Linked DNA regions of Homo sapiens. The protein of the gene in region 3 interacts with the protein of the main gene of each other region in a biochemical or structural test. Each region holds a gene or a part of one and is shown on either strand. Other genes may lie near its edges.

What was found. Proteins that work in one complex are often made in the same cells at the same time.
Region 1: the proteins of DLG1 (region 3) and ATP2B4 form a complex in vitro, tested with the Homo sapiens proteins (2 studies listed by BioGRID and IntAct, with this or other methods).
Region 2: the proteins of DLG1 (region 3) and VANGL1 interact in a test that uses a peptide from one of them, tested with the Homo sapiens proteins (2 studies listed by IntAct, with this or other methods).
Region 4: the proteins of DLG1 (region 3) and KCNA4 interact in a biophysical measurement, tested with the Homo sapiens proteins (2 studies listed by IntAct, with this or other methods).

The regions. Positions count from the first base shown.
Region 1 is NC_000001.11:203,705,928-203,710,863, forward strand, and holds part of ATP2B4 (plasma membrane calcium-transporting ATPase 4), read left to right. Parts: intron 1-1,081; coding exon 1,082-1,296; intron 1,297-1,934; coding exon 1,935-2,177; intron 2,178-3,373; coding exon 3,374-3,615; intron 3,616-4,936. UniProt on the Homo sapiens protein: Calcium/calmodulin-regulated and magnesium-dependent enzyme that catalyzes the hydrolysis of ATP coupled with the transport of calcium out of the cell. By regulating sperm cell calcium homeostasis, may play a role in sperm motility.
Region 2 is NC_000001.11:115,647,566-115,652,501, reverse strand, and holds part of VANGL1 (vang-like protein 1), read right to left. Parts: intron 1,226-4,936; 5' UTR 1,089-1,225; coding exon 1,018-1,088; intron 1-1,017.
Region 3 is NC_000003.12:197,046,216-197,051,151, forward strand, and holds part of DLG1 (disks large homolog 1), read right to left. Parts: intron 1-4,936. UniProt on the Homo sapiens protein: Essential multidomain scaffolding protein required for normal development. Recruits channels, receptors and signaling molecules to discrete plasma membrane domains in polarized cells.
Region 4 is NC_000011.10:30,008,698-30,012,534, forward strand, and holds the end of KCNA4 (potassium voltage-gated channel subfamily A member 4), read right to left. Parts: coding exon 2,020-3,837; 3' UTR 1,033-2,019; downstream 1-1,032. UniProt on the Homo sapiens protein: Voltage-gated potassium channel that mediates transmembrane potassium transport in excitable membranes. Forms tetrameric potassium-selective channels through which potassium ions pass in accordance with their electrochemical gradient.

The DNA.
Region 1 (4,936 bases), on a different chromosome or scaffold from region 3:
GAATTTGCTTTCATTGATATCATCATCTCTAGCCTTGCTTGGAGGCCCCCGAATCATCAGGCCCTTGGGAAAAGCAAAAACCAAAACCAGATAATGATTTAAAGCAGAGCTTTTCCCAAATATTGTGCCACAGTTAGGGACAGTTGTCCCCAGATATTGATTCCATCAGCCCTCAAAGCATCCAGGCAGCACCCATGGCAATCAGAACCCCTAAGCCAGTCGGTTTTGACCTTGAGCAGATTCTTTCACGTACTGTAATGTGTAGGGTAACCAACCATCCCAGTTTGCTTGGGATTTTCTCAATTTTAGCAAAGCCCCACATCCCTGGAAACTGTTCAGTAGTCTCAGGATGGTTTGGTTACTCTACCAATGGGCCATACCAAAGACTTCCCAGTACTTTCATTTCCTCATCTTTAAAAAGGCGGTAATAATAATGACCTATTTCACAGGGTTGTGAAGTGCTTGCCTGGCCCACAGCAGGTGCCCACATAAGTATTTACTATTATTGGCATCTTCTATGTGTGCCGTGACAAGAGAAATCTTGGGAAGCACTGTTCTAAGAGTTAGTCATGCAGGTGATACACTAGCACCATAGAGGCATTGTTGTAAACAAGGTGTGAATTGTCCAACATTCAGAGGTTAGTAGAGGAGAAGTCAAAATTGATAAACTACTATGAAATGGACAAGTACAGTCATGACATTATGAATCGCAGGGAGAGGGTGGGCGTGGAATAGGATCATAGAAAGCTGTTTCAGGAAACAGATCAACCCCCTGATTTATGAATGAGGAATTTGATCTAGGAAACAGGCCCAGAGAGGGTCAATGACTTGTCCAAAGCCACAAGTCAAGTTAGTGCAGTGCTGAGAATAGAACCTGTGTCTTTGAAATACGAAACCACTGTCTGTTCCCTATGCTATAATGTACAAGCAACAGAGAATGGGGGGGATTTTAGTAAGTCTTCCTGGCGATGGTGGTTTTAATAATTGGCAACAAAGGCTACAACTGATGCCAATCTATCTCTGGCTAGGGCCCTAGGACTGCCCTCCAGCCTGGGTTCATATGACTTGTTTCTCTGGACAGGTCTGCTCATGTCTGCTCTCACGGTTTTCATCCTGATTCTATACTTTGTGATTGACAACTTTGTGATAAATCGCAGACCATGGCTCCCTGAGTGTACTCCCATCTACATCCAGTACTTTGTCAAGTTCTTCATCATCGGCATCACTGTACTGGTGGTGGCTGTGCCAGAGGGGCTGCCTCTGGCTGTCACCATCTCACTGGCCTACTCTGTGAAGGTGAGACTAGAACAATCCTATCTCTTCCTTTAGGATAGAGATGGGAGAGAAGGGTACCATGTAACCTTTAGTGAAAAGATAAGCCATTCTATCATCTATAAACTTTGGCTGGTGCCTCACAAGAGCAGAAGTCCCTGGTATTATGGAAGGACCATCTCTGTCAGATGCATCAATGTTGAAATGACCCAGCAGAATCTTAAGAGAATGACAAAAATGGTATCTTGGATTTTTTTTTTTTTTTAAGACAGAGTCTCATTCTGTCACCCAGGCTGGAATGCAATGATGCAACCTCCGCCTCCCGGGTTCAAGTGATTCTCGTGCCTCAGCCTCCCAAGTAGCTGGGATTACAGGTGTGCACCACCATGCCCAGTTACTTTTTGTATCTTTTACAGAGACAGGGTTTCACCATGTTGGCCAGGCTGGTCTTGAACTTCTGACCTCAGGTGATCTGCCCGTCTCAGCCTCCCGAAGTACTGAAATTACAGGCATGAATCACTGCACCCAGTCAGTATCTTGGATTTTTGTGTGGGACTGGAAGATGAAATGTGGAGAGATGTTGGCTAGGAAATGGCCTTTGACCTAGATTTAGGAGAGTCCAGTTAGTCCCCCTCTCAAGTCTTTTCTCTTCTCCTTTGTAGAAAATGATGAAAGACAATAACCTAGTACGGCACTTGGATGCTTGTGAGACCATGGGCAACGCCACCGCCATCTGCTCTGATAAGACAGGCACGTTGACCATGAACCGCATGACTGTGGTACAAGCTTATATTGGGGGCATCCATTACCGTCAAATCCCAAGCCCTGATGTCTTCCTGCCCAAAGTCCTGGACCTCATTGTCAATGGCATTTCTATCAACAGTGCTTATACCTCCAAGATTCTGGTAAGCATTTCCTTTGCGTAGACACTTAGAGTGGGTGGTTGGAAGGGAACATCCATTTTCTCTGAAATGAACCCCCTTATTGTTTACACTGCCTAAATTGCCATCCCACATCCCATTTCTCACGCTGGAGTGAACATGTTTGGGTGAGACTACAGAAAAATCCCTGGGAGTCAATGGAGGGTTGGAGGTAAGGGCCTGTAAGAATCTATGGCCAGGAAATACCCTCCCAATTAGCATGTAAAAGCAATGTCTCTAAGGAGGGAAAGTAGAAAGTAACCCAAAGTAGAATTGGGCTTATCAGAAGTAAATTACTCACTTTCTAGAAACAAGCATAGTGTATTAGAATAAGACCCACACAAGGCGAGACACCAGCACTACCACTAGAGCAAACTACAAAATCCCTAAGCCCTGGATGGCACAAGGATCACGGTTACCACTGACCCCTCTCTGCCTACCCTTGAAAAACAACAGGCTAGGCATAGTGGCTCACTTCTGTAATCCCAGCACTTTGGGAAGCCAAAATGGTAAGATCGCTTGAGCCCAGGAGTTCGAGACCAGCCTGAGCAATATTGTGAGACCTCATCTCTACAAAAATAAACAAAATTAGCCAGGCATGGTTGCGCACCTGTAGTCCCAGCTACTCCAGAAGCTGAGGTGGGAGGATCACTTGAGCCTAAGAGGTCAAGTCTGCAGTGAGCTGAGATCACACCACTGCAGTCAAGCCTGGGCAACAGAGCAAGGTGCTATGTCAAAAAGAAAAAGAAAAAAGATGCCAGGTGCTGTGGCTCATGCCTGTAATCCCAACATTTTGGGAGGTTGAGGTGGGCAGATCACCTGAGGTCAGGAGTTCAAGACCAGCCTGGCCAACATGGTGAAACCCGGTCTCTACTAAAAATACAAAAATTAGCTAGGCATGGTGGCAGGTACCTGTAGTCCCTGCTACTCAGGAGGCTGAGGCAGAAGAATCACTTGAACCTGGGAGGTGGAGGTTGCAGTGAGCCAAGGTCGTGCCACTGCACTCCAGGCTGGGCAACAGAGCGAGACTCCATCTCCAAAAAAGAAAAAAAAAAATGTTATTTCCCCTATGAGCTCCAGGTATATAATGTGAAGGCTTTGTAAATGAGTTCTTTCTCCCTAAGTTCTCTGCCTTGTCAAGGCATCTTACTCAATAGTGCTGTGTATATTTCTTCTCCCAGCCTCCAGAGAAGGAGGGAGGCCTGCCTCGGCAGGTGGGCAACAAGACCGAGTGTGCTCTGCTAGGCTTTGTCACAGATCTGAAGCAGGATTATCAGGCTGTGCGTAATGAAGTGCCCGAGGAGAAGCTCTACAAGGTGTACACCTTTAACTCAGTGCGCAAGTCAATGAGCACCGTCATCAGGAATCCCAACGGTGGCTTCCGTATGTACAGCAAGGGCGCCTCTGAGATCATCTTGCGCAAGTGAGCACCCCCGACCACTCTGCTTCCCTTCAAGATCCTCTCCTCAGGAAGGCATGGGTGCACACCCCACACTGAACCCATGTGAATGAGGGAGCCCTCCAGCCAGGTGGTGACATAATAACTAATATCCAAGCGTCTACTCAGGCCACGCATGTTTTTTAAGTGCTTAAGGTGGCTTGTTGTATTTAATCCTCACAACTCAGTAAGGTGGGTACTATGATTATCCCTGTTTTACAGATGAGAAAACAGAGATATAAGGAAGTTAAGTATCTCACTCAAGGTGATACAGCTAATAGTGGCACAGCCAGGATTCAGACCTGGACGATCCTAAGTTTCCATTTCCTAATCTGAAAACAGAGATAGCCATACTCAGCTCCTAAAAGTACTACCCCCTCACTGTAACTAAATGATTCAATGTATGTAAAATGCCTTATACATAACAAGTACTAGAAACGTTTGTTCTGTGTTCTCTTTTCCTTCTCTTTCCTTCCCATTCCCATTTCTGATTACAGGGAATTTACATAACTTTAAAAGTGACTATTCGGCCAGGCGCAGTGGCTCACGCCTGTAATCCCAGCACTTTGGGAGGCCGAGGCAGGCAGAACACGAGGTCAGGAGTTCGAAACCAGCCCGACCAACATGGTGAAACCCTGTCTCTACTAAAAAAAAATACAAAAATTAGCCAGGCATGGTGGTGCGTGCCTGTAATCCCAGCTACTCAGGAGGCTGAGGCAGGAGAATCGCTTGAACCCAGAAGGCAGAGGTTGCAGTGAGCTGAGATCGCACCACTGCACTCCAGCCTGGGTGACAGAGTGAGACTCCATTACAAAAAAAAAAAAGTGACTATTAATAAATTACCCATAGTTCATCAAAAGTTGGCACTATACCTAAGTAGGGCTGAATTAACCAGTGCTCCAACATGGCTTTAGCCACCTTCTTTTAATCAGCACATTCTTGTATAGGAAACCTCCCCCAAACCACCAGCACCACACAGTGAGCACTATTCTAAATACTCGGATTGAAAAAGTCTCTCTGCCTTCAAGAAGTTCAAAAGAGCAGGTGATTCACAAATGACTTGCATTGCATTCACATATGGGTAAGAACAGATGACATGGGAGAATCCCACTCTCTATATATCTAGACCTTAACTCCATCCACAGCCCACCTACCTTGGAAAGAGGGACTCAGCTGGGTGATGAATGAAGGAAATGTTTGGCCACACTTGGAGCAATGTCTTTAGGAATAATACAGAGTTGCCAAAATACCTGTCAATGATTGTAGAAACGTATTGAGTGGGAAGGGAGACACCGCGTTCTTACTG
Region 2 (4,936 bases), on a different chromosome or scaffold from region 3:
TTTAATCCTCTCAACAGCCCTGTAGGAGAGGACTGCTGTACCCATTTTACAGATGACAAGGCTAAGTAAACAGCAGCACTGCAATTTCACCAAGTACAATTCTAACTGGTACAGTGCCACCTATCTGTTCACTGATTTCTTTATTCATTCATTTGCTCTTCTACTTAACAAACATTCTACAGGTCAGTAACACAGCAGGCCCTAAGAATACCAGTGCACACCTGCTAATTTTGCAGAGAAGGGGAAGTTTGACCAATATCACTCAGGACAGTGTTTTCAAAACCCAAACTTGTTCACCTGAAGATTAGTCAAAAAGAATAAGGTGCCAGGACAATCCTACCAGTTCACTAAATAAGCCTCATGACAAAGGCATAATGGACAATGAGTCAACAACTTCAGGTGAAAAGCAACAAGCAATGAACACTTTTTAAATCTTCCATTTACATTCTTCATAAAGCTTTCAGGAGAGCCGATACCTATAAGAAATACCTAGAAACCGAGGCGGGCGGATCACAAGGTCAGATCGAGACCATCCTGGCCAACAAGGTGAAACCCCGTCTCTACTAAAAATACAAAAATTAGCCAGGCGTGGTGGTGGGCGCCTGTAGTCTCAGCTACTCGGGAGGCTGAGGCAGGAGAGTGGCGTGAACCCACAAGGCGGAGCTTGCAGTGAGCCGAGATGGCACCACTGCATTCCAGCCTGGGTGACAGAACGAGACTCCGTCTCAAAAAAAAAAAAAGAAATACCTAGAAATGAAAAACATTTCCACTGCAGGAAGAAACTTTAATTTAAAACCAATTGTGAGAAACTAAAGTCATCAACTCTAATGGTGGCTATAAAATGTAAACTGGTGACGTAGTTACTCCCAAGAATGTTAAATGCTCTTAAAGCTCAGCTTCTCATGCACCAACCGACCAAATGTCCAGCGCTGAGTCACTGAAAAGTGAGTGTAGAGAACCCCACCAACCTGTAGGTTTCCCCAAAAGGAAAAGTGTAATAATGAACAACTTACATACCCTTGTCTGTGAGATTTTTTCGAATGACTTGAATAGTAAGAATATCCAGAATAAGTGGATTCGGTATCCATAGCAATGGAGGGCTTGCGCTTGAGGAAGGAGCAGGTACTGTTTCTCCTTAGAGGTAGAAAATTTCACCTACCAGACTCCTAAAACCTCAAGGAGTCTGGAAATTAGAAGAGGAGCCACTCTTCAACAGGAACAAATTCTGGGAAAGAGGGGGAAAAAAAAAGACATTAATCTTCAGAGCCAACCTTAATGGGGCTGAAAGATAAATGACAAAGCCACACCTCCTCTCTGGGGTCTCTATCATGGAACAAGCGAGTGAGGGTGAAGCAACTGAACTGTAAATGCTCCACCCATGCAGCAACCAGTTTTCCCAGGTGTCTGGGAGGGAGACAGGATAGGCGCTGAGCAAGCTGAACCCCTACCACAGCAGCAGGAAAATGGGAGGCACTTGTCCACGTCCTCAGGATGACCTGACCCCTGCTCACTGGCTTTAGGAGGTGGCTTTCCACATCTGCGACCCTCCACACAATGCCCAGCCCCCCACTGCCAGTTTGCTGGTTAAAAAAACAATACCCAGCGAAGTTGCTTTTAAGGGATTTGGTCATAATTTCCAAAAGTCAATTAAAAAAAAAAAAGATCTTCAATCTTTTTGATCTAGGATCCGAATTTCTGGGAATTTATCTGAGGGAACTGATTTCTTTTTTAAAGAAAAATTATTGTGGTCTCATTGTCTATAAATAATAAAATGCTAGAAACAATCTGAATGCCCCCAGAATACAGGAATAGGTAAGGAAAACATGGTTCATCCACCAGAAAAGTATCACATATGTTTAAAATGATCATTATAAAGAATAGAAACTCTTATAATGATGAATTTTAAAAGCAGGATACAGTATTGTTGATACACAGTGAACCAACATTACAGTTACAATTGTATAAAATTGCTTATGTAAGGACAAAGATTTTTAAAAGGAGACACAGAAAATGAAAGCAGGCAATTTATTATTTGCAGGCTCCTGGGTCTTCTCCCACATTTTCATTAGATATTGCTTTGCAATAAAAATAAATTGGAAACATTTCCAAGTACATTCCTGAGCTCCCACATGCTAAAATTTTTACTTCTAGAAAACCGAGATCCACAAGTTCTGTCTCTTTCTGCACCCCTCACCCCAGAGCTAGTCTCAGCTCAACAGGGTTCCTTCTTCCAGCCGCTGGAAGCTGAAACTGCAAACACAGCCAGTGAGATAAGTGTGAAGAAAAAACAAAGGAGCTGTAAATGCCATACCCTAACCCTCCTGGGAGGAGGCCAAGTTTCCCTGACCCCAGCAACAACACATAAGTCTGGAGGGAATCAGGTCAGCACAAATTGCCATACACCACCAATACAGCCCCCACAGCCTCTAATCCCAGTTAGGGTGTATTTACCCTTACCATTCATTCTTCCTGGGAGTCAGGTACGATCACTTCCAAGGTCTGCCACCCAGGGCCAGCCTCCTTTGTCCCTGATGCCCTGACTTACCATTTCACTTCTCCTCTGCCATCAGGAGCCCAAGGCTAGCCCTGGGGAAACCTGAGTTCTAGTCTGAGCCCAGCCACTGTTTAGTACAACCTGGGATAAGCCACTTGCTTTCTTATGCCTCAGTTTCCTCATCTGTTAAACAGGGTAAACCAACCAGCCACCGACCTCACAGGTAGATCTGAAAATATAAGCAGACACAGTTTCCAAAGGTGGGTTCCAATCTCGGGTTTTACTCACTTATTAGCTATCAGGCCCCAGTCAAAATTAGTAAACCTCTTTGAACATGTAACTGTAAAATGCAAATATCAGGGTTGCCGTGAAGACCAAATGAGCTAACAACTATGAAGGCACCCAGCGCGAGCTCCAGATGTGCTAGGTAAACGAAAGTCACTGTCTATCAGCACTCTCTTTGCGGGTTCCGAAATGCTTGTTCCTCTGTCTTTTTAATGAGAGAAATGCTTGGAAAGAAGCAGAGCAGAGTCTCTGTGCCGGCCTTCCTGCCACAAGGCTCACCTGCAGTCAGACAGAACGGAGCACACATCTCAGTCCGCTGCCTACTAACTAGCTGTACACCTGGGCAAAGCAGTTTCTCCTTGGAGCCTCAGAGACTTCCCAATCCATAAAAAGGAAGCAAGGCAGCCTATTATGGTGGGGGTTTGTGGGGGGAGGTAGCTGTAAAGATTAAATGTGAAAACACAGCAGGCCTTTTTTAAATGCTAAGTTTTGCTCCTGGACTTACCCTACTTTCCTAGAAGACTTCAAGGGCTGAGTCATCTTTTTTTCTGCCTACTGTCTCCACCATTTTCACTAGCAATTTCAATCAGCTTTCAACACCTCAGTCTCACTTCCTTTCTGCCCTGGGCTTTGCTGTTTTCTCACCTGCTTCATAACAGGCAGACGTCAACATTAGGATGTGCTTCGAAGATCTCCAGCCCTGAGTGAACTGAGATCCTCCCTGAAAGCCCCTCACCCAGCCTCTGCTGATCTGCAGATTCAAATGTCCAGTTCCCTGGCCCAGAACACCGATTTCCCACTCTCTTCTAGATTCATAATTAACCCTTCACAACTCCTACACTCTGCCTTGCAACCCATAACTCTGGATTCCCCATTCCATCCCAACTTCCAGCTACTTTTTGCTAAATGCTGCTGGAGTGTCTCAGAGGCAGGTGGCCCAGGCCCCGCAGATGTGGGCAGATCCAGCTTGGTGCTTCCTAGCTGTGACATCAGGGGGCAAATGTTTGCCTCTCTGAGCTTATCCAACCCTGCCCCATAAAAATGAGGTCATTTAATACTCTCTCTTCCCAGGGTTCTTGTGAGGATTAAATGAAACTGCAAAGGTAAAGTCTCTGGCACATGGTAACCCAAGTTTTATTCCCTTCCCCCTCTGCCAGAGGACTTCATTCCTTGTCCTCATTGAAAACTTGTGGCCATTCATTAAGACAACTCCAGGCTTGTCCCTCAAAGGAAACCATGGGTCCCAACTGCCCTCCAGGGAAAGGCTTTATCTAACTCTACCAACCACCCTAGTCTGGTTTCCCTCCCATGGTTCCTTCCTGTACTTACCAAAGGAGTGGTCTATACATGCTGTCACTCCCTCCTTCTCCACTTTCAGTCCAAATCTCCATCCACAACACTCCACTGAAACAACTCAAAGTTGGCCAAGGATTGCTATGAGCCAAGTAACATCCTTGTCCTCCTCCCCCAGTGCTTTTTATTTCATTTATTAGTCCATCCACCTCCATATTAAGTGGCACCTACAAGACCATGCTAGGCAATGCTAGGGCACAGCAATGACAAAGGCATGCTGCCTGCCCTAGCAGAGTTTCTCTGCAGCTGGCTAGCCTCCAATTTGATGCCGCTTATGTTACTACTTCTCCTCTAACACTCCCTCTCCTCTCCCCTCATCACGTTATCCCTTGACATTCAAAACTCTTCTCAGTCTTCTCCATCCACAGATTTCCTATGGCAGAAGCTCCTTGAACACAGCAACTACGTCTTACCTCCACCCAGGATATTTTGAACATAGCAGGTACCCAACAAATACTTACTGAAAGACTAAATCCCAAGTGCACATTTCCTACTGAGATTCCTCTTGCTCCCCTTGGGAATACCATCATCCCTCTCATAGGTGCTCTCCAGTATCCTGTCCTGTTCTTCCCAATTCCTCAGCTAAAGCAATACCCTCATCCTAAGGATCTAACCCTGTGCCACCTTCAACACCCTCTCTGATCCTCCCTTCACTCTACTGATTCACAGCCACCCACTTCCTCCAGGCTCCACCTACACAGGGCTAGACCACTACAAAGCCTCCAGGTGTCCTCACCAGCCTATACACAGCTCAGGCCCCTTCTAAGTCATACCGTTTCTAATAGTTACCAACTCTTATCCTAT
Region 3 (4,936 bases):
CAAGGATTTATTTTAGAGCATTTCATAGTTTAGGTTGACAACAGCACGCAAGGATTTATTTTAGGAGAAAACAGTCAGGAACTGACTTGGGAAATATACATTTTGCTTACTTTGTAAATTCATTAATGGAATGGTTAGTAAACCAGGGAAACTGGGAAAGCATAAGGCTGCAGACACCTTAACCATGTGATTAAAATTAGCATCATAAGTAACGGCACAAGTAGACTTTGTAAACCTCCTTGCATGATACACAGAGGACACATCATTACTTCATTGCTATTCCTGCCCCAAATGCAGAACCTAAATCGAATTATGAGAAAACATCAGATAAATCCAAATTGAGGGAGGGACATTTTATAAAAGAATGGGTCTTTGGCCGGGTGCAGTGGCTCACGCCTGTAGTCCCACCACTTTGGGAGGTCAAGGTGAAGGTGGGCGGATTGGATGAGTTTGAGACCAGCCTGGGCAACATGGCGAAATCCTGTCTCTACAAAAAATACAAAAATTAGCTGGGCATGTTGGCTGTAGCCTGTAGTCCCAGCTCCTTGGGAGGCTGAGGTGGGAGGATCACTTGAGCCTGGGAGGTGGAGGTTCCAGTGAACTGAGATCGCACCATTGCACTCCAGCCTGGGTGACAGAGTGAGACCCTGGCTCAAAAAAAAACAAAAGACAAAAAACAAAACGAAACAAAAAACAAAACGAAACAAAAAACAACAAAAAATCCCCCCTAGTGTTTTTACTCTTAAAAAATGTCAGTCAGGGTCATGAATAACAAGACTTGGGAACGATTTCAGATTAAAGAACATTAAGGATGTGATAATCCAATACAGCACGTGAGCCTCCGCTGGATCCTGCACCAGAACAGAAAAACCATTTTTTTCCATTTTGCTCTAAAGAGATTAGAAGAATAGTGAAATACTAATAAGATCTATAGTTAGATGAGACATATAATTATTAAATTTCCTGATTTTGATAATAAAACTATGATTCTATAAGGGAATATCCCTGTTTTTTAGAAAATACACACTGAAATATTTAGAAGTAAAGGGACATCTACCTGAAACTTACTCTCAAGTGTATCAGAAAAAAACCTATAAATGTGGTAAAATGTTAACACTTGAGGAATTTGGGTGAAGGGTACATGAAACTCCCTGTACTATTCTTGTAACTTCTATTTAAGTCTGAAATTAGTTTGAAAAAAATAAGAAAGCACAAGGTTTAAAAACCATGACCCTTACTGATACTCAGTGTGAATGTCAAATTTAGGCTGATATTATTTCAAACAAACAAGTAACAACAACAAAAATGTCCAAAGACTTGAGGAGGAAGTTAAAGGACAAGGCGAGTAAAATAAGAATATTGGGGAGTTGCTACCTACTTTTTTTTTTTTTAAACAAATAGTATTTCAAAACGGATCAAAGGGCAACTAATCATTAAAAAGGGGCCAAGACTACACAATAGGGAAAGGCTAGTGTCTTAAATAAATGGTGCTGGAAAATCTGGATATCCACATGCAAGAGAACGAAACTAAACCCTTATCTTATACAAAATTAACTTGAAATAGACTAAAGACTTAAATGTAAAACCAGAACCATAAAACTCCTAGAAGAAAACACAGGGAAAAAAGCGCCTTCACACTGGTCTTGGATGATTTTTTGGAAAGCACAGGCAGCAAAATAAAAAATCATCAAGTGGGATATTAAATAAAAAATCTACACAGCAAAGGAACAATCAACAAAATGAAAAGGCAACCTATGGAAGAGGAGAAAATATTTCCAAACATGCAATTGGTAAGGGGTTAATATCCAAAATATATAAGAAAATCATTAGCAAAATACCAAATAATCCATTTAAAAAATGGGCAAAGGACTGGAATCGACATTTTTCCAAAGAAGACATACAGATGGCCAGCAGGTATCAGTAAAAGTGCTCAACCTCATTAATCAGAGCAACAGAAACCAAAACCATAATGAGGCTGGGTGCAGTGGCTCACGCCTGCCATCCTAACACTTTGGGAGGCTGAGACGGGCAGATCACTTGAGGCCAGGAGTTTGAGACCAGTCTGACCAACATGGCAAAACCCTGTCTCTACTAAAAATACAAAAATTAGCCGGGTGTGGTGGCATGTGCCTGTAATCCCAGCTATTCAGGAGGCTGAGGCATGAGAATCGCTTGAACCCAGGAGGCAGAGGTTGCAGTGAGCTGAGATCATGCCACTGTACTCCAGCCTGGGTGACAGAGCAAGACTCTGTCACAAACACACACGCAAACCATAATGAAATATCACCTTAGACCTGTGTGGATGGCTGTTATCAAAAAGATAAGAGATAACAAGTAGGCAATGGTATGAAGAAAAGGGAACCCTGTACACTGTTGGTGGGAATGTAAATGAGTAAAGCCATCACAGAAAATAGTGTGGACATTCCTCAAGAAATTATTATTACTATTATTATTTTTGAGACAGAGTTTCACTCTTGTTGCCCAGGCTGGAGTGCAATTGTGCGATCTTGGCTCACTGCAACCTCCGCTTCCCAGGTTCAAGCAATTCTCCTGCCTCAACCTTCCAAGTAGTTGGGATTACAGGCATGCACCACCACGCCCGGCTAATTTTGTATTTTTAGTAGAGAAAAGGGGTTTCGCCATGTTGGTCAGGCTGGTCTCGGACTCCTGACCTCAGGGGACCTGCCCACCTGGGCCTCCAAAAATGCTGGGATTACAGGCATGAACCACTGTGCCCAGCCACCTCAAAAAATTAAAAACTGAGTTATTATATGATCTAGCAATCCCACTACTCGATATATATACAAAGGAAAGGAAATTGGGCCAGGCGTGGTGGCTCACACCTGTAATTCCAGCACTCTGGGAGGCTGAAGCAGGCGGATCACTTGAGGTCAGGAGTTTGAGACCAGCACGGCCAACCCTGTAACCCTGTCTCTACTAAAAATACAAAAATTAGCTGGGTGTGGTGGCATGTGCCTCTAGTCCCTGCTACTTGGGAGGCTAAGGCAGGAGAATCAACAGAACCCAGGAGGCGATGGTTGCAGCAAGCTGAGATCACACCCGCATTCCAGCCTGGACAACAGAGTGAGACTCTGTCTCAAAACAAAACAATAAAAAACAAAAAGCCAACAACAACAAAAAGAAAACCAAAGGAAAATAAATCAGTATGTTGAAATCTGCACTCCTATGTTCACTGCAACATAATCAACAATAGCCCAGATATGAAAATCACCTAAGAGTCTGTCAAAAGATGAATGAGCCGGGCCCGATGGCTCACGCCTGTAGTCCCGGCACTTTGGGAGGCCAAGGCGGGCGGATCACCTGAGGTCAAGAGTTCGACTAGCCTGACCAACATGGGGAAACCCCATCTCTACTAAAAATACAAAATTAGCTGGGCATGGTGGCACATGCCTGTAATCCCAGCTACTCAGGAGGCTGAGGCAGGAGAATCGCTTGAACCCGGGAGGTTGTGGTGAGCTGAGATCATGCCATTGCACTCCAGCCTGGGCAGCAAGAGCAAAACTCCATCTCCAAAAACAAAAAAGATGAATGAATAAAGAGAATATTGTAGGCCAGGTGCAGTGCACCTATAATCCAAGCACTCTGGGAGGCCGAGGAAGAACGATTGCTTGAGCCTAGGAGTTTGAGACCAGCCTAGGCAACATAGCGAGACCCTGTCTCTACAAAAATAAAAAATTAGCCAGGTGTGGTGTTGCACGCCTGTAGTCCCAGCTACTAAGGAAGCTGAAGAGAGAGAATTGCTTGAGCCCAGGAGGTTGAGGCTGCAGTGAGCCATGATCATGACACTGTACTCCAGCCTGGGCAAGAACAAAACCCTGCCTCAAAAACAAACAAACAAAACCAAAAACAGGCCGGGCACGGTGGCTCACGCCTGTAATCCCAGCAATTTGGGAGGCCGAGTCGGGTGGATCACGAGGTCAGGAGATCAAGACCGTCCTGGCTAACATGGTGAAACCCCATCTCTACTAAAAATACAAAAAATTAGCTGGGCGTGGTGGCAGCTGCCTGTAGTCCCAGCTACTCGGGAGGCTGAGGCAGGAGAATGGCGTGAACACGGAAGGCGGAGGTTGCAGTGAGCCGAGATTGCGCCACTGCACTCCAGCCTGGGCGACAGAGCCAGACTCCATTTCAAAAAAAAACAACAACAAAAAAAACCCCCAAAAAAACCCAACAACAAACAACAACAAATATATATATATATGTATGTATGTATGCATGCATATGGTATATATACAACAATGGAATATTTTATTAGGCCATAAAAATGAAAATCCTATCATCTGCAACAACCAACATGAGTGAATGTGGAGGACCTTATGCTATATGAAATAAGCCAGACACAGAAAAGCAAATACTGTATTTCATTTATACGTGGAATCTAAAAAAGTAGAACTCATAGAAACAGAGAGGTGGTTTCCAGGGACTGCAGAGTAGAAGAGATGGGGAGATGTTAGTGAAAGGGCACAAACTTTCAGTTTTAACATGAGTAAATTCTGGGGATCTAATATACAGCAGTAGTGACTATTGTTAATAAAGAGTAGATCTTAAGAGTCTTCCCTACACACACAAAATGGTAACTGTGTGGTTAAAGACATGTTAATTTGATTGTGTTAATCAACTTACAATGTACACATTTATCAAATCACATTATATGCCTTGAATATATACGAATTTTGTCAATTATACCTCAACATGGCTAGAGAAAATGGATCAAAATTTATAAAGGATAAGAGAAAAATCAGAGTTTCATAGAAGAAATGAAATCTAAATCTATTTTTCTCTGGTCAAGTATGAATTATTCCTGTTTTTGTTGTTCTAATCAATAACCTAAGAAACATTAAATTTCAAGATTCCTGGCTGGGCAGGGTGGCTCACCGCTGTAATCCTAGCATTTTGACAGGCTGAGGCAGGTGGA
Region 4 (3,837 bases), on a different chromosome or scaffold from region 3:
TGTTAAGTGACATTTCCAAATGACTTACAGCCTGTCCAAATAGCCTTACCCCTTCTCTAATGCTTGTTACATTTTTGCCCCAAATCTAAAATGTATTAAAACATTATCTTTGAAATCTTATTGTAAGATGACATTTTCTTGTTTTATCATTCTCTGTTGTCTTCTATTGATCTTTGTTCTTCACATTCAATAAAAGGCCCTGCTTGCTGTTTTCATTCTCTAAAAGGTGTTCTAGAAAAGTATTTCTCTACAAATGGTGGGGAAAGGGTGGAGAGGGGGTGCAGTTTTACTTTTAAGCCTAATGTTGAATTTACTTTGAATTTCAAATACCATTAAAGGAGAGGTAGGATTTATGTAATTATGAAATGATGGCCTGGATTTTAAAAAGCTTGAGAAAGGCTATTCTAGGTCAGTTTGTTTGTTTGTAGCTCACAGTTACCAGAGTTCACTATGTGCCGAAATAGTGTATGCAGTGTTGTTTGTTTTGTTTTGTTCCCCCGCCCCCAACCAGAGCTCAAGACAATCATTTTATAAAGAACAGAAGTTAAATAAACATTGTAGAATAAGGCCTCTTATGCATTCTGAGTTTTCTAACCTATACCTCATGATTTCATAGTGCAAGGCTGATCGCTAGTTGTTATCTCACATTCTAGAATGCTTTGTCATGACTTAAATGCAGTTATATGTGTCATAAATTCCTTTAATAAAGATAATAATGATGGTGATGTTGAAACCAAATGTTTGACACAATTCTTCCTTATGTCCATTTTAGCAAATATAATGTTAAAATCTGAGGTTAATCCCCAAATTCTGTTCTTATATAACTGCACAAAAAAATAAACTTAATAAATCTAGCGTTTATGTTTCACATTTAATAGAAAAATTTTAAGCCATAATCACTGTAGCTGCTTGGCATCTTCTTCAAGAATTCTTTCAGTGCATGCATTAACTTTGGTTAAATTATTCTGGAGTTAAAAGGCAGAAGAATATATAAAATAGTATGATTTCAGAAGCATCATTCTAACAGACCAATTTCAAAAGATTCAGTTGCTAAATTTTACTTCATAATTCCTTTGTCAATCAGTTATTTAGATTTTAAAAGAGGAGAGAATCCTGTGATGTTATCTGCATGATCATTAGTCTCACACAATGAAAAGAAAACAATAAAATAAGACTAAAGAAATCATTCTTCCAATGATTGTCATTGAACTGTTACATTAGTAAACATTCACAGTTTGAAGTCTCTCTCAATCTCCAGCATATAAAGTAGTGCAAAGAAAAAAAAATCCAGTCCTGTTACCTGCAAACAAAACTTATTACATATTCTCCAATTTCACTTATTCTATAATGTTAGACATTTGCTGTTAAGTCTTCCCAAAATTAATAACAAAATATAATCAATTTCTAAAGGCCCTTGCAGCCTTTTTAAAAGTTAATTTCCAGTTAAAAATAAATTTTAATTAAATCCAAGATAAAATTGTGACCTATAGTCTATTAAATAATTTACTTTCTTTTTTCTCTACACAGTATTTCTTACAATTTTTAAAAAACAACTACAGAATCCAAAGACATACGATATGCTGTTAAAGCACTGATAAATGACTGCTCAGATTCATTAGTTCTTACATAGTAAATACTTCAAAATGCCAACTTTTCCCTTCACTGCACAATTACTAACATTGACAATTTACTTCACACACACACACATATACACACACACGCACACACTCTCTCTCTCCATCTTTACTGTTAACATCTTTTCCAGTTAATGTGCAAAATTCTTGCATTCTAATAAAAATATAAAGATAGATTTGCTCCTATTCCTCCCTCTTCTCCAAGATGTATCATTTATTTGATATGTAATACAAGTTTAGTAACAATTATGCCATGTATAACCATTAAATAGTGTACTACTGTATGCATTGGATCATTTGCATATTTCATTTTCATAACTGCACTCTCTATGCATAAATATATTTGGAGATGCTGAGGGGGGAGCAGTGGCAGGTGGAAAAAGATTCACACATCAGTCTCCACAGCCTTTGCATTAGAACAGTTGTTTTTATCTGTCTCACTGTCATCCCCCTTTCCCTGACACTTCTCCTCCTTTGCACACAGAGATTCCTTAACTCCTTCTTCCATCTCTAGATACTCTGACTTGTCCCCCAGGGAAGAAGAAGTAGAGCTCCGAAATTTCTTGAGCAAATTAGAGGGGAGGTATGGACAACTGACTGCATTCTGCGTTAGCTGTGTCTGTTCCTCATTTTCAGTCTCTCTGTGGTAGAAATAGTTAAAGTTAGAGACAATCACTGGCACTGGCAAAGCAATGGTTAAGACACCCGCAATGGCACACAGGGACCCGACAATCTTGCCCCCTACAGTGATGGGCTTCATGTCCCCATAGCCCACAGTTGTCATGGTCACCACAGCCCACCAAAATGCATCTGGGATGCTTTGGAAATGGGTAGTAGGTTCATCCGCCTCTGCAAAATACACAGCACTAGAAAAGAGGATGACCCCAATGAAGAGGAAGAAGATCAGAAGGCCCAGTTCCCGCATGCTGGCTCTGAGGGTGTGGCCCAGGATCTGCAGGCCTTTGGAGTGCCTGGAGAGTTTGAAGATCCGGAATACTCGGACCAGACGAATGATTCTGAGGATGGCAAAGGACATGGCCTGCTGCTGCTGACCATTGCCACCCCCCTGTTGCTGGGCCAGGTCAGTGCCCAGTGTGATGAAGTAAGGCAAAATGGAGACAATGTCAATGATGTTCATGATGTTTTTGAAGAAGAGTGCTTGGCTGGGACAAGCAAAGCAGCGAACCACAAACTCAAAGGAAAACCATACAATACAGACTGTTTCCACGATGAAGAAGGGGTCATTGAATATTGTGTGCCCTGAGTTCTCCAGATGGGGTGCTGAAGTATCATTCAACAACCCACCATGCCCGCCAGCACTCAGTGCCATGACGAGATCCCTGTCGTCCCTAAACTCAGGCAAGGTTTCCAGGCAAAAGATGACAATGGAGATTAAGATGACCAGGACGGACACAATGGCTATGCCCCTTGCAGGACTGGAGCTCTCTGGATATTCAAAGAGGAGCCAAATCTGCTTTTTAAATTCATTCTCGGGGAGGGCCCTGTCTTCCTCTTCTCTCACAAAGCCCTCGTCCTCCCGAAACTTCAACAGGGCCTCCTCCCCCAACTGATAGAACTTCACCTCCTCAGTGAAGATATCAAAGGGGACATTGACTGGCCTCTTCAGGCGGCCTCCTGATTGATAATAATACAAGATGGCATCAAAGCTGGGGCGGTTCCTGTCAAAAAAATACTCATTGCGCAAAGGGTCAAAGTACTGAGTCCTCTTTTCAGGGTCTCCCAACAAAGTCTCTGGAAACTGGGCCAGAGTTTTCATTTGGGTCTCAAAGCGTAGGCCTGACACATTTATCACCACACGTTCACAACAGTCACTGTAGCGGACTGAACTGTAGCCGCCACCGCCCTCATCCTGAGGCAGCAGATCCGTGTAGGAACACTCATCACCATGGTCATCTTCACTATAGTAAAACCTTCCCTCCTCTTCCTCCTCTTCCTCCTCCTCCTCATCTTCCTCCTCCTCACTCAGCTCCCTCAGGATCTTCTCCTCAGAGCCACTGGGCATCAGGTCAGAGCAATGAGGGAAGCTGCTCTGCCGGTAGTGGGCTTTCTTCTTCTCAGACCGCTGTCGCCTCCTCCTCCGACTACCCCGGCTGCTCTGAGGGTCATGGGAGGTACAGGCCCCGCGTGACTGGTGGTGGTGGTGGGAGCCCCCACCAGAACCCCCGCTACCTTCGACAGCAGC